Linked DNA regions of Homo sapiens. The protein of the gene in region 1 interacts with the protein of each later gene in a pairwise test. Each region holds a gene or a part of one and is shown in the gene's direction. Other genes may lie near its edges.

Region 1 (7,657 bases):
AGGCCCTTATCAGATATGTGATTTGCAGATATTTTCTCCACTTGGCAGATTGTCTTTTTGCTTTCTTGAGAGTGTGCTTCAATGTAAAAAAAGGTCTTATTTTGATGAAACTCATTATCTAACTTCATTTCCAATGCTTTTGCTTTAATATCCATGAAATTGTTGCCAAATCCAATGCCATGAAGATTTACTTCAGTGTTTTCCTTGAGAGTTTTATAGTTTTAGCTCTTAAGTTTAGGTCTTTGATTCATTTTGAGTTAATTTTTTACAGGTGTAAGGTGAGCTTTAACTTCATTCTTCTGCATATGGATATCCAGTTTTCCCAGTGCCATTTGATGAAAAGACTGTCCTTTACACAGTGAATGTTCTTGGCACCCTTGCCAAAAATCATTTGACTGTCTATGTTAAGCATTTATTTCCAGGCTCTCTTTTCTATTCTGTTGGTCTGTCCTGATGGTAGTACTGTACTGTTTTAATTACTGTAGCTTTGGGGTACATTTCAAATTCAGGAAGTATGTATGAGTCTTCTAATTTTGTTATTCTTTTTCCAAGATTGTTTTTGCTATTTGGGGCCCCTTGCAATTCCACGTGAATTTGGGGACCTGCTTTTTCATTTCTGCAAAAAAAAAAGCCATTGCAATGTTGACAGAGATTGCATTGAATCTGTAGATCATTTTGATGAGTATTTACGTCCTAGCAATGTTGTCTTTCTATCTATGAACATGACATTGGCTTTCCATATATTTGTTTCTTGAACTTCTTCCTCAATATTTTGTAGTTTTTAGCATACAAATCTTTCACTTCCTTGGTTAAACTTATTTCTAGGTATTTAATTCTTTTGGATGCTATTGTAAATAGAATTGCTTTCTTAATTTCCTTTTCATATTGTTCATTGCTGTTGTATAGAAATACAAATACCGATTTTCACATGTTAATCTTGTACCCTGTAACTGTTGAATTTTTGTATTAGCTCTAGTAGCTTTTTGTGTATTCTTTGGAATTTTCTCTATATAGGAACATGTTACCTGTGAATAGAGTTTTACCTCATCCTTTTCAATTTGAAAGTCTTTCATTTATTTATTTTTTGTTGGTTGTCTCTGTTGCTGTCGCTGGAACTTGCAGCAGAGTGTTGACTAGACATGGCAGCAGTGGGCACTTGTCTTCTTCCTGATCTTGGGGAAAATGTTCAGTCTTGCCATTGAGTATGATGTTAGCTGTGGGTTTTTCATAAATACTTTGTATTACTTGAGGAATTTTCTCCCATCCTTGTTTTCCAAGAACTTTTTTTCTGAAAGGGTATTGCATTTTCAGAAGCCCTTTCTGCATCGATTGAGATGATCGTGTGGGTTTTCTCCCTTCGTGCTGCTACTGCAGTGCACGACATTGACTGATTTTCTTATATTGAACCACCCCTGTGTTCTTGGGATAAATCCCACTCGGTCATGGTGAATAGTCCTTTTAACATACTATTCCCTGACTTTCTTTTGAGGCTTTTTGCATCTGTAGTCATAAGGGATATTGGTGTGTAGTTTTTCTTTACTCACAATGTCTTCATCTGGCTTTGGTATCTGAGAAGGGCTGGCCTCCTACCATATGTTAGGAAGCGGTCCCTCCATTCCAGTTTTTAAAAAGAGTTTGTGAAAGAGATCTATCTACTCTTGTGACTTCTAAGCATGGACACATTTCCTGGCCCAGTCCTGGTTCCTCCTCCCCTCTGTCCACACACTTAGTTCCACCTGTCTAGACACAACTGTGTGGTAGATGGTTCTAGAACCACATCTCTAACCCAACCGCTACTCCAAGCACCAAACTCATACAGCAGTCAGTCCACTCAGTATGTTCAATAGGCATCTCAATCTTAATATGGCATTTCCCCCCAGACATGCTTCTCCAGTCTCTCCCATCTCAGTCAGTGGAAACACCTTCCACCTGCTGGTCAGGCCCCAAATCCTTGAATTGCTGTGTTGGTGCTGACTCGTGACTGCAGACAGCAGAATCCGCTATAGCTAATTTAAGCAGTGAGGATATGTGTGAAGCCATTGGGTAGATCATAGCATCCATGGGAGAGTCAGGAAACCAGAACAGCGAGAAACAACCACAACCCTGGAGAAACACCCAGCCACGCTGTAGGACTGTGTTAGGGAAACCCCCCTCCCCGTCCCCTGCTGCTCAGCACCAACAATGCCAGGGACGGGACCCAGAAGAACCAAACACCTCAACATCCATCTGCTGTGTCCAGCCCGATTCCTGTGTTCCTTCCACATCTCATGTGGTGCATCTCCTGGCAAAACCGGGCACATCTGCACACCAGCTGCAAGGGATCCCGGAGCGTGGCATTATGGCCTCCAGCTTCTGCACACTGGAGGGCACACCCCGGGGGGGGGGGGCGGTGGCAGGGTCACTAATTCAGTGTCTGCCTCTGTGCTCTTTGGGTTCTGTCTCCGCAGCCAGCTTTTCAGCAGTCCTGCCCCCTCTGCCTTTACAGGTCCTGCTTTGACCATTTCCCATGACCTCTGTCACTCCCCTGGAACCCAACCTCATCACTTTCACCAAGATCAGGCATCCACTTCCTGATCTCCTGCCTCCGCCTGCTGAGCTCTCTGAAATGTAAGTCGGAACAGGTCGCTTCCTTTCTAACTCCATCCCCTCTGAGTGTCCCCACTTTCGCTGTGTTTGTGAGCTCACCAGATCTGCCCCCCCCCCACCCCATAGGGCCTTTGCACAGGTGGCTCCTTTGCCTTCAAGTCCCAGGTAGCTTCCTCTCAGTGTCTGCTCAGCCTGCCCCATCAGAGAGGCCTTCCTTGACCGGATTTGTGTTCTGTCCACTGGTTTATTTCCCTCCACTGGAATGTCAGCTTCCCAGAGATGGGGGCTGTGCTGTGACTACCAGTAGTAGTTGATCAGTAAGTACTTTTTGAATAAACCAAGCTATGTTAATAGTCCATGTTTTGGAAAAACTCCCTAGAAAACATCCCTAATTCCATGGATCCATGGCAAAGAAAGAACCAGATCTGTAGAAACGGGCTGGAGAAGCTCACAAAGGACTCCTGGGCTGAGAAAGCCCCACACGGTCCCACTTTCTTTCTGTATAGTGGAGGTGTGGCAGGGGTGAGCTCCTACCACGGGCCCCAAAGTCTCCAGTAAGAGTGAGATTCCGGGCTGCACCCTGACCAGGCGCCACTGGGTCACTGCTGACCGTCCTGGAGGTGCTGAACAGGGATGAAGCCGTTTATTCTGGAGGCATGCCAGCATTCTTGGGTCCTGCTCTGGCAGGAGCTGTGGGGCCACACAGGCTTAGAAAGGTGGCTCCCATCCTGGACAGCACCGTGGGCAGTACTGTCACGAGGACGGGCTGGGAGGAGGGTGTGGCAGGGGTGTTGGGGGCCTCAGGTAGGGGCCAGCACAGAGGGACACCCAGATACCCAGCACAGAGGGCAGGAACAGGTCAGCTCCCTGCCTGGGCTCAGGGATGGGGCTGGAGGTTCTAGGAAGCAGAGCAAGTAAGCAGGACAGGGAACAGTGAGAACACAGGTGTAGATGGAGAATCAAGGCGGGGCGCAGCCAGGGATTCCAGGGAGGAGTAGACAGAAACTCAAGGGAGGGAGGCCTCGAGGGGATCCCAGGGAGGTGTGGACAGGGATTCTAGGAAGGAGTAGACAGAGACTCAAGGAGGCCTCGACGGAGATCCCAGGGAGACTGACTGCCTGCTGCATAGGAGGGAGGCTCCCAGCTGTGTCCCTGAGCTGCATAGGAGGGAGGCTCCCAGCTGTGTCCCTGAGCTTCATCCACTCTGTAACCTGTGACAAAACGGAGCATTATCTGTCAATGAGCACATCTGTGCCGCAGTTTTTGGGATGGTGCCAGGGTAGGGGTGAGGGACAAGTTGAGGGGACAGGTTGAGGTGGGGTCCCTGTGAGGCCCTCCTGGACGGAGTGGACCTTATGAGACACTCCCTAGCTGAATTCCCAGCAGGAAGCTGGTGCCCAGAGCACCCTGGACTAACGGGCGGGAGAGGGACTTTGTTTTGGGAGGCTCTTTGTAGATCAAGGCATTAAAATTGCACCTTTGGGGAAAGCATGTTCCAGAGCACCAGACACCCCGAGGCACCCTGAGTTGTGGGGGGGGAGGGTGATGGAATTTGGGGCCCTCGCTGAAGCCCTTCATTATCCAAGCCAGGCGCGGGGTGGCACGTAGTTCCCACAGCGGCCCCTGGACGGAGGAGAGGGCCTGGGCCGTCCACACCTGCAGAAATCTGGAGCTGGTCCGCCTAGACCAGGGGAAATCGGGGTCCCGTCCGGGTACACTGGCAGAACTCAGGGGTCAGATCCTCTGCCCTGGAGCATTCAGATTTGTGCCTCTACGTTATGGAAACCAGGGGCCCGTCCGGGTGCAACGTGGCATCCACAAAATGGCAGGTCCCCGAGCTCCGGGCTCCGAGAGAACAAAAGCAGAAGCCACTGCCGCCCGCGCTCGGGGAGGAGCCGCCCAGGTGGGCGCGTCCGGGGCTAGGCGGGAGCTGCGCAGCCGGGTCCAGGGGAGACGCCCCGCCCCGGCCGGACCCTCGGAGCCTCCTAGGGGAGACCCCGGCCCCGCCCCTCTCTCGCCCGGATCGGGCGGGGCCCCGGGAACGCGCGCGGCGAAGGCGGCCTCGGCCCAGTGCACAGCGGGACCAGGCAGAGTTCGGGGAAAGCGTCGGAGTTCGGGAGACCAGGGTCCAGCATGGGTTTCAGCACAGCAGACGGCGGGGGCGGCCCAGGCGCCCGGGTAAGAGGGGGCACGGGGACTGCGGCGGGTGGGGGCGCGAGCGGACGCGGGAGTAGGGGCGGGTGGGGGCGCGGGGGTAGGGGCGGGGTGGGGGGGGGCGCCGGAGTAGGGGCGGGTGGGGGCGCGGGGGTAGGGGTGGGGTGGGGGCGCGAGCGGACGCGGGAGTAGGGGCGGGTGGGGGCGCCGGGGTAGGGGCGGGTGGGGGCGCGGGGGTAGGGGCGGGGTGAAGGCGCGAGCATCAAGGCGGGCGGGCGCGGGGACTGGGGTGGGAGGGGGCGCGGGTACCCAGACGTGCTGGGGGTCCTGGCGTGGGTCCTGGGACCTGCCGGCGGCTGCTGCGGGAACGGGAGGGAGCTTCTTCAGGCACCCTTTTCCTTGTAACCTCGTGAATACTCGGGAGAAGAAATAACGCTTTCTGGACAGATTTGCCCTCTCGGTGCCTGAAGGGGAGCCAGGGGAGGGGAGTCTGAAATCTCATCGCCAAAACTGAGAGTTGCTAAGTTACTCTTCAGCTCAAACCGGTGGGACAGAACAGTGATCTGTGGTGGCCCGGAACAAAGAGAATTTTTACTTAAAAATACCAAGATTGACTTTTGTGTTGGAGTGCTAGTTGATTTGAGTAAGAAACATTTGCTAGTAAAACAAGACAGTTATTTCAGCTTTGGTGAAAGAGTGATAAAGCTGTTTTCAGGTTTTTCATGTGAGTTGCAAAAAGTATATTGGGTTTGCCTTTCCCTGTTTCGTGTGAAACTAAAGAGTGGTTGAGGTGAGGTAATTACACTCTACTCCTGTTACCCAACAGCACTTTTGCCTAAAAAGTTTAGTTGGTACGTCTAGGTGTCTAATTAAGAATTGAAACATATAATTTAAAAATTAAGTTAAATGTCATTGAAACGGTGCATAATTGATACTTTTGACTGAGCCTTAGGCAGCTGGGTGGGTCCTGAATCAAGATTCCTGGGAAGGTAGGTTTCTCAGCTTCCCGAAGAGATTTAATGTAAATCTTCATGTAATGTGGACAAAGGTGAGTTTTAGCTTTCAATTTCCCTGAGCCTGCCTCGAATTCACAAAATTCCAGGCTCTCTGGGTCAGAAGGAACTTCGGAGATCTTGAGGAGGCCGCCGTCTCCGAGATTCTGTGATATATTCAGCATTTCCATTCCCTATGGGATCACAACCCACTGGGAAGCAGTGTTTGGTGACCCCCCCACCGAGAAGTGGGTTCATATTCCTGCTTCTGAGGAGATACCAGGTTTTTATTTCACTGTGCGGCATCCGGTGTGCAAATGCAGATGTGGCCTGGGCTGGGAGCACACAGGCTTGACCCCGCAGGCAGCCGGTAGGCCAGGGTGTCAGGTCCCCTGTGTTAGCCGGAGCCTTCTCATCTTTTATCCTGGTAGAGGGGCGCTGCTGGCCTTTCTGGGGGGTGGGTCTAGTCTGAAATCACCTTTGTGGGATCTGTGGCACTGGCTAGCTCTCAAGCTGGCCGGTGGTCTCAAAGGAATTCTTCGTTACTTGTAAAGTAGCCCAGAAATGCTGGGCTGAGGAAGTAATTTGCCCCAAGGCTCCCTGAGACCTGTATTCACAGGTTGTATCATCCAGCCAAACACAGGAGGCCCCAGATCCCCAGATCTCAGAGATTTTTGTGGGAAATCATCTGAGTCTAGCTCAGACACCACTGCCTCCCTCCTTCCAAACAGAATGAGTTTGTCCTCTCTTTGCGTTTGAACAAAAGTCAGGCCATCTAGAGCCTCCTAACTCTCACCTCAGACCTCCAAGGTGGGGCTACTCATTCTATAGATAGTGGAAATTGAGGCTTCAACACCTGCCCAGCATCTCACTGCCAAGAAGCAGCAAAGCTAGGTTTGAGCCAAACTCAAGGTCCTGGTTCTCCTTCTCCCCTCAAGGGCCCTGAAATTTTGGTGCCTCTCCTGGCTGATACAGCATCAGTGCTTCTGTGCCCTGCGGCAGCGGTTCTGTTCCCCACCTGGGTCGCCCCACACCTGGCAGGGCAGGTGCTCCCTGTGGACAGGCCAGTGCTGTTGGGTCCAGCCAAGACCTCAGGTGCCACGTGTGTGGTGAGGGGCTCCCTTCTTCCACCATGCTGTTGAAGACAGAGCCTCAGACTTTGTCTGACCCGAGACCCCAACGTGCTTCTGAGCAGGGGGAGAGTGAAGAGGGGTAGGCTGGGATGAGTGGGTGGCGGGGCTGGAGGGGGTTGAGAGGTGGCAGGTTCCATCCTGAAAGTGTTGGTTCTGGGCCTGGGAATCTGGGCAGGGGGAGAGTGAAGAGGGGTAGGCTGGGATGAGTGGCTGGCGGGGCTGGAGGGGGTTGAGAGGTGGCAGGTTCCATCCTGAAGGTGTTGGTCCTGGGCCTGGGAATCTGGACTCTGGTAAGCAGAAGGCACCCAACATTTCCCTTTACCTTATGGGGGGCTCTCGGGGAGGTGTCTGTGAAGTGGGTAACAGGCTCCAGACCCCGATCTTTTGTCCAAAGAACAGGCCTGGAATCTTGGAAACCAGCACATCCACCCTCCATGAGCTGTTGTCCTTCGGGCCAGTAGCTCAGCCTCTCTGAGCTTCAGTCTGTTCATTGTTTACAGGAATCATCTGTGCCTCACCTACCTCTCCGAGTACCCTAGAGTCAAACTTGAAAAGAGATGTACACAAGCTTTTAACAAGGAAACACAGTTGCATTCTTCACTTATGTTACTGTCCTTTAACAGAATGTTCCTAAATTGAAAGCTGCCTATGTCGTTGTGATATCTGGGACACTTTTCTGGGCCGCAGTTCACACCTGGGCCCAGGTTCTCAAAGACAAAGCTTTTGAATTCTTTTTGATTGATCTTACAAAATTTCCCCTGACAGAAAATCACATTGTGCAAAAGAGATACT
Region 2 (7,023 bases), on another chromosome or scaffold:
TACGAGTATATAATAGTTTCTAGCTTTCTGTCAGCCCTACCTCATCCTTTTTTCGTAGTGTCTAACTCTTACTGTAGGTATATTTTGCTGACTCTAGAACTGTTGGAAAATTAACAGCACCAGTGTAGCTTTTTAGATAGAGATCCTTTCAAGTTTGAAGTGCTGTATGTGGTATGGCTTTGTTTCGTAGAGTGTGCAGAACCACCAGGCCAGCTGTGTGAGTTAGAGTTCTTTCATTGTGGTGCTTCTGACTACAGAGTCTGTCTGTCCTCAGTTGAAATCAGACTAGCTGGTTTTGGGCGTTGTTCTGTTTTGCAGTTTGTGGCAGGCGACACATGGCTGAACAAGATAAGGGTTTTATTCTTGTGTTAGGGACGTGCTGGGGCTGGGATGGAATTCAGCTATGTTTAGGCTCTGATTGGTCACTTTGGATACTCAGAACTCTGTTACATCCTGTTATTATTTTGCAGTTAAATCAACACATTAACTTGCTCTCTTCTCTTTCCCTTCATCTTTTACTCCCCAGTCCGCACCCCTTAAAACCTAAAACTCAAACTTTTTAAAAGACTTTAAACTCAAACTATGTTCATGGTAGCTATTACTTCTATGTAGTATATCCAAACAGCTTTAAAAAAAATGGTAAGCAATTTATGAGCCCTGGAGTCTGTAGTTTTCATCGTTTAGAATGAGCACTTGACAAGTGTAGAAATGTCTGATTGCTGCTTTTTAGTCTGCATTGATTGCTGCATTCAGTCTTAAAATACATCCTAATCGTTTCCAATCCTCCTACATGTCTTTCTTGTATCCCTGAGAATTTAGGGGTCCTATAGCAATTGGAATTTCTTCTGAGAGGTAGACAGGAGAGAATGCCCTTTTAGTAGACTCAGTAAATGATTTCAGGCCAGTGTCTATAACATTGAATTTTCAGGGACAGTACAGGTAGGAAAGTTATAGGGTTCTTCCTTGAAATAAATGGACTTTTGTTTTGGCTAGGGCTTATGAATTTTGTAGTTTTTGATTTATAGATAAAGACAGGTTTTTGATACAATTTTTTTAAAGCACTGAATTCAGCTTTGAGCTGTTTAACTTAAGCAGATTTTTAAAGTGAGTGTGGAAACCTGTGACTTTATATGCCTGTACCCAGTAATTAATGATACTTTTCATTAGTGATACTTTTTCTGTCAAAATTGCTGTATAATGGTTTTGATTAAAAAAAAAAGAGCTACTCATGTTTATATGTTATTTTCAACGTTGCATGAGTCATCTCTCGGCAAGGTGAAATTATTTGTAACCTTTTCTTGTAAAGTCAGCCAGTCCATAAATACAAAATTGAAATGGGGGCCAAAGATCACAGTGTTAGTTTTGTATTCAGTTTTATCTTTGCCTTTTTAGTTCAGTATAAAATCTTGAGTCATAAAGGTATGCAATAGTACATTCACTTGTACAGTTTTACATGAGTCAACATGCAGAATCTAAAGTAACTTTTTTTGAAAGTACAGTGTTGTAGTCTTCCTGATTAATGGTACATTTATATGATGTTCATATTCAGTAAGGTGACAAGAGAAGCTTTATTTGAAATCATTACAAAAATATGTTAACCTTGGAATACCACTTAACACATTGGTGGTTTCCGGTTGTTAACATGTATATACCATCGAGTTAACATGTAGGTTTTTTTCTTTTTTGAGTCTTGCTCTGTCACCCACGGTGGAGTGCAGTGGCGTGATCCCCTCACTGCAACCTCCGCCTCCCAGGTTCAAGCGGTTCTCCTGCCTCAGCCTCCTGAGTAGCTGGGATTACAGGCACCCACCACCACGCCTGGCTAATTTTTGTATTTTTAGTAGAGACGGGGTTTCACCATATTGGCCAGGCTGGTCTTGAACTCCTGACCTTAGGTGATCCACCCGTCTCGGCCTCCCAAAGTGCCGGGATTACAGGCTTGAGCCACCGAGCCCAGTGGTTTTTTTTGTTGTTGCTGTTGTTGTTTTTTAACTAAGTTTGAGTTTTCAGTTTAAAAAATGAAATTTGAGGCAAACATTCATGGAATCCATAAATGGTGAATTTTACATATGTTTCTGTGGAGCATTGCGATTCCAGGGAAAACAGTTGGAAAATATTTCATTGTACATATGTGGTTGCCTCTTCTAAATGTCATCCAGTGGTGGGTATGAATTGCTTCCCAAACTGATACGGGTCACAGAAACAGCAAGATAACATACTGGTTCCCAGAGGTAATTGAAGGGACTCTTTTGCATCATGGTTGTCTGACATTATTAGAAATGTTTCTTATATACTTGCTTGTTTCCTAGAAATTGACCATGACACATTTTCAAGAATAGTAGCTTAACTTCTTTTGGTCTTTTCTGTTAAAACTTGGTTTTGATGATGTTCCTGAGCTTTATTTGAAGACATGCTCCTTTCCCTTATAATAATTACAGGTTTTCAAAATAGTGCCATGTGAGTTAAAATTTTTAAATCAACAAAATTATATTTTTGCCTTCTTTTGAGTAAAATACCATCATGTAGGTAATGATATCCTGTGGTAGTATAATTCTTTAACATTTACAATATTTTCAGTTCAGTACAGGGCAGATCATGCTTCTGTCATTTACACTTTAAGCTAATTCATACAGTTTAAGTCAAGATTTTAAGTCAAGATTATAAAACTAGAAAGGGCAGACCCAAGATTTTAACCTAGATTTTCTGGCTCTCAAGTCCCCCATTGTTTTTTTTCATTTTAAATTATTGTCTTTCTTTGTACTGTATTTTTCTGTGCTATTTTCCTTTAGTAACTCTCCAGCTTGATGAAGTCAGTTGGATTTTTCTCTTACAGCATAGTTTCTAGTACCTTACCCATTCTAATTTTAAATATCTCTTGAGGATAAAGCTTTTGTCACTTCCTCAGGAGACTGAAGCACAGTCTGATAGATCTTGCTGTCAGGAAGTTTTTCCTGATCTTTACGTCTAACTTTTCTTTTAAGTTGTCCTGTTACTTGTATGTACTTGCTGTACCAGGCTAAATAATGCTCTCCTCCCATTTTATGTTTGTATGATTCTAAATGTTTCAGACGGTTATTCATTATCCTTTCCGGTCCCCTTCCCTTACTCTTTGCTTAGCCAAGCTGTATGCTTTCTGTTGATCCATTGTCTAAAAATCAGCTTATCTTAATATTTCATTAGCTTTTTCTCAGTTGCTCTCCTACTGCAAAAATATGGGTAAAGAGATTCTCAAGGTCATTTTGATTCACTTTTATTTTAGATAGTCTTTAGGATGGATATGAGATATGTCACAGTCAAATGAAACAAATTTATACAAACAGCATGATTACCAAATCAACTAATTAAGCAATTACTCATGTTCTAAAAGGCTTTTTTACAAAGCGATTCTTTCAAATATGAGTACCCTCAATGTAACAAATGTTATCAATTCTATGACAAAAGGGTAGGGTATAGAAATAATGTTAGCCACCTTTGATGGAAAATCATCTTGTTGCAATATGATGAAATACATCAGGAAGTTGTTTCTTATTTTTTCCAGTGGTTTTTCAGTTCGTTATCTTAAATTGTAGGTCAAAACATTCCTCGATGTTTGGTTTATTTTTACCTTATTGTTTTGTCTCCTCTTATTTCCACATGTTAGTGAAATAACAATGCTTAGCAGTATTTTTTTTTTCAGTAAAATGGATATTGTGAAAATTGAAATATTTTACTTTCTTGCTGTTGTATTTACAAGAATTGTTAATGACAAGACAGTGTAACAGAAAAAGTGCATATTTAGATTATTATAAAATCTGTAAGACTGTAGACCTTTTGAATACTTTATTAGCATATTTTCTTTAGTACTATTTTAGTTTCAAATTATTGAGATAGATGTCCTTGTTTTGTATTTTGCTAATATTAATATTTTGTATTTTGGTAATACTAAAATTTGCAAACATGCCAAATTTAGAGCATTTTACTTTTTCAACTTAGAATATCTGGAATCATCAAGATAGTCATATAGGGAAGACCGCTATAAGACAGCTTCTAACTCCAATAGAAGCCTATGAAGCTAGTGCCTGGTCAGAGGCTGTGCCTAAATTGCATGAGTATATAGTGTCGACTTTTAGTAAAAGAAAAAATACACTAACTTTACCTCTTGAATTAGCATGCACCAATGCAGTTTAGATTCATACCGAAACAGGATCTTTTACTAATTCAAATGCTGAGTCCTGGTTTTTGAGATCACAGTCACATGACAGGCCTGGGTGGCTTCTCAGTGTCTAGAGACAAGCAAATCTACTGGCCAATGAAAAGTAGGTTTCCTGTCTTGGACTGCAAGTAACAATTCATGCAGAAATTGGAACTATATAAGAGAGCCTGGTTTTAGTTAATGCTTTCAATTAGCTGCTTGTCACACTGCTTTTTCTTTTGGTGTTATATAACACATTAGAGTCATTTAAAGGTACACTCTGATACTACAGTTTTTGTCAAATATTACATATAAATGTTGATTTTACATTCATATACTCAAAAGATCAAAGAGGACTTTGTAGATCTTTTATGGATTCAAAAAAATGTAGATTATTTTGTTGTAGAAAAACTGGCCAGGCGCGGTGGCTCATGCCTGTAAATCCCAGCACTTTGGAAGGCTGAGGTGGGCGGATCACTTGAGGTCAAGAGTTCAAGACTAGCCTGGTCAGCATGGTGAAACCCTGTCTCTATTAAAAATACAAAAATGAGCCGGACCAGGTGGCACATGCCTGTAATCCCAGCTACTCGGGAGGCTAAGACAGGAGAATCACTTGAACCCGGGAGGCGGAGGTTGCAGTTAGCCAAGATTGCACCACTGCACTCCTACCTGGATGACAGAGCAAGACTCCGTCTCAAAAAAAAAAAAAAAAAAAAAAAAAAAAACTGGAGACTTCATCAGCCTCTGAAGGAATGATACCTGAAATTGATCTTGTAATGCAGAAAGTGGCTATATGTTATCCAGAAGAGTAACAGATACCCCAAATACACTTGCTAACACAAGAAATCCTGTGAAGGTGCTTAGACATACCCTTCCATAGATTTTAGATGGGTTATCTGCCTATGTTCCAGACACAAGCCGATATGTTGTGGTTTGCCCAGTACAGTCTCTGTGGTTTACTGAGAGGAAGTGGTTCTTGTGGGTGAAGGTCTGATCTTTTCAGAGATTGTTGGTGGCATATGCACTGTCAGCCTATTTCCTGTTTTATTGGCTGTTTAGCAAGACCTTCTTAGGGCAAGTGCTGCTGAAGAGGTATTTAAATATTTTGTATTGGCAGGATAGATGGTTATAATGATGTATTATTATATCACTACTTCTCAGGTGATATGAGAGTTAAATGAATGTTTGTGAAGTGCTTTGAGATCTTAGGATGAAAAGTACAGACATGTTCTTAGTCATTTGCAGGTTACTGCTATGTTCAGATATTGCTCTCTTGAAGTTAAAACTTGTTCATGTAGTAAAGTGTTACTCTATTAAACTTGATTTCTGTAACCATTCAAGTGTTGTTTTATCACCACAAGAGTCATGATTAGAATTTTTCCCCTTTTTTTCCTTTCTTTCAATGCTCCTTTATGATTTTACCCTAGAAGAGTTTCCTTAATAGATTCCTTGCTCTAGTACTGGTTAAGGCATATTTACCAAACTTAACACCTAGCAAGCTTGTCCAACCTGCCTTATTTTGCTGTTGTTCTTCTGTTTTGTTTTGTTTTAGGCTTTCAGCAGCCTGAAGCCATGGTTTTTAGTTTCTGTCTCTAGTGATAAAACGGAAAGAGGGATGAGGAAGGGGCTTTACTGGCCCATCCAGAAACAGAAACTAAGAACCCATGACTGTATTCTCTCCCTTGAACAACTGTAACTAGAGCAAACCTCTTTGCCAATTTAACTGGCATACTAAAATAATGAAATTGTGAGAATTTCCTTTGAGATTAGTAACTGTACCATCCATATACAAAACACTATATTGCTTTGCTGAAACCTGAAAGTGAGCAAACTGATAGAAATGCATATAACAGGCCGGGCGTAGTGGCTCACGCCTGTAATCCCAGCACTTTGGGAGACCGAGGTGGGCGGTTCAGGAGGTCAGGAGATCAAGACCATTCTGGCTAACACGGTGAAACCCCGTCTCTGCTAAAAATAGAAAAAATTAGCCGAGTGTGGTGGCGGGTGCCTGTAGTCCCAGCTGCTGGGGAGGCTGAGGCAGGAGAATGGCATGAACCCAGGAGGTGGAGCTTGCAGTGAGCCGAGATCGCGCCACTGCACTCCAGCCTGGGCACAGAGCGAGACTCCGTCTCAAAAAAAAAAAAAAAAAAAACGAAATGGCGTATGTCATACTCCTAAATATATATATATATACAGTATTTAGCCTTGGACGTTAAAAAAATTAACAATGAATGGGGGAAGGCTTTATTTAAAGCTAAATTGTTAGCTAATACGTGAGTTCTTCAAGGGTATAAGAATAGTTCTTATTCATTTTTAAGTAATTATCGGTAGCCTTATTATATTTTTATTTTTTAATACTGAAAAGCAGAAGGAAGAAAAATAAATGGCCCAAATGATCCAACTACCCAGATGTTGCTGCTCAGGTTAAACGCACACACGCATACACACACAGAAAATTCAAATCATATAAAATGGTATAAAAAAAAGTATTCCTACACACCTGTTAGTTTTCATACCTTCTCCTCATAGGTAACAATAGTTAATTTTTTTGGTTTATCTTCTGAAACATTTAAAAATATATACCAGCCTATAATTTTATTTTTTGCACCTACTCCATAATAAGTGTATCTGTCTTCTTTTGCTAGGTTATGCTGCTGTAGCAACACTATCAAATTTCAGTGGCTTACAACACTGCTTTTCTTCTTGCTTATGCTACACCTTGTCAGCTGTGGATTGACTGCAGCATTGCTTCACGTTTCTTATTTTGGAACCCTGGCTCAAGGAGCATCCCCTGTCTGGGCTGTGCCATTATTGTGGATGAGGGAGAGAGCAAGAAAACAGATGCAGACATA

What was found. Proteins that work in one complex are often made in the same cells at the same time.
Region 2: the proteins of PLEKHG4B (region 1) and ARHGEF12 interact in binary tests that used the Homo sapiens proteins (3 or more experiments, as listed by UniProt).

The regions. Positions count from the first base shown.
Region 1 is NC_000005.10:87,513-95,169, forward strand, and holds the start of PLEKHG4B (pleckstrin homology domain-containing family G member 4B), read left to right. Parts: upstream 1-4,655; 5' UTR 4,656-4,719; coding exon 4,720-4,764; intron 4,765-7,657. UniProt on the Homo sapiens protein: Guanine nucleotide exchange factor (GEF) which specifically activates small GTPase CDC42 by exchanging bound GDP for free GTP.
Region 2 is NC_000011.10:120,339,399-120,346,421, forward strand, and holds part of ARHGEF12 (rho guanine nucleotide exchange factor 12), read left to right. Parts: intron 1-7,023. UniProt on the Homo sapiens protein: May play a role in the regulation of RhoA GTPase by guanine nucleotide-binding alpha-12 (GNA12) and alpha-13 (GNA13). Acts as guanine nucleotide exchange factor (GEF) for RhoA GTPase and may act as GTPase-activating protein (GAP) for GNA12 and GNA13.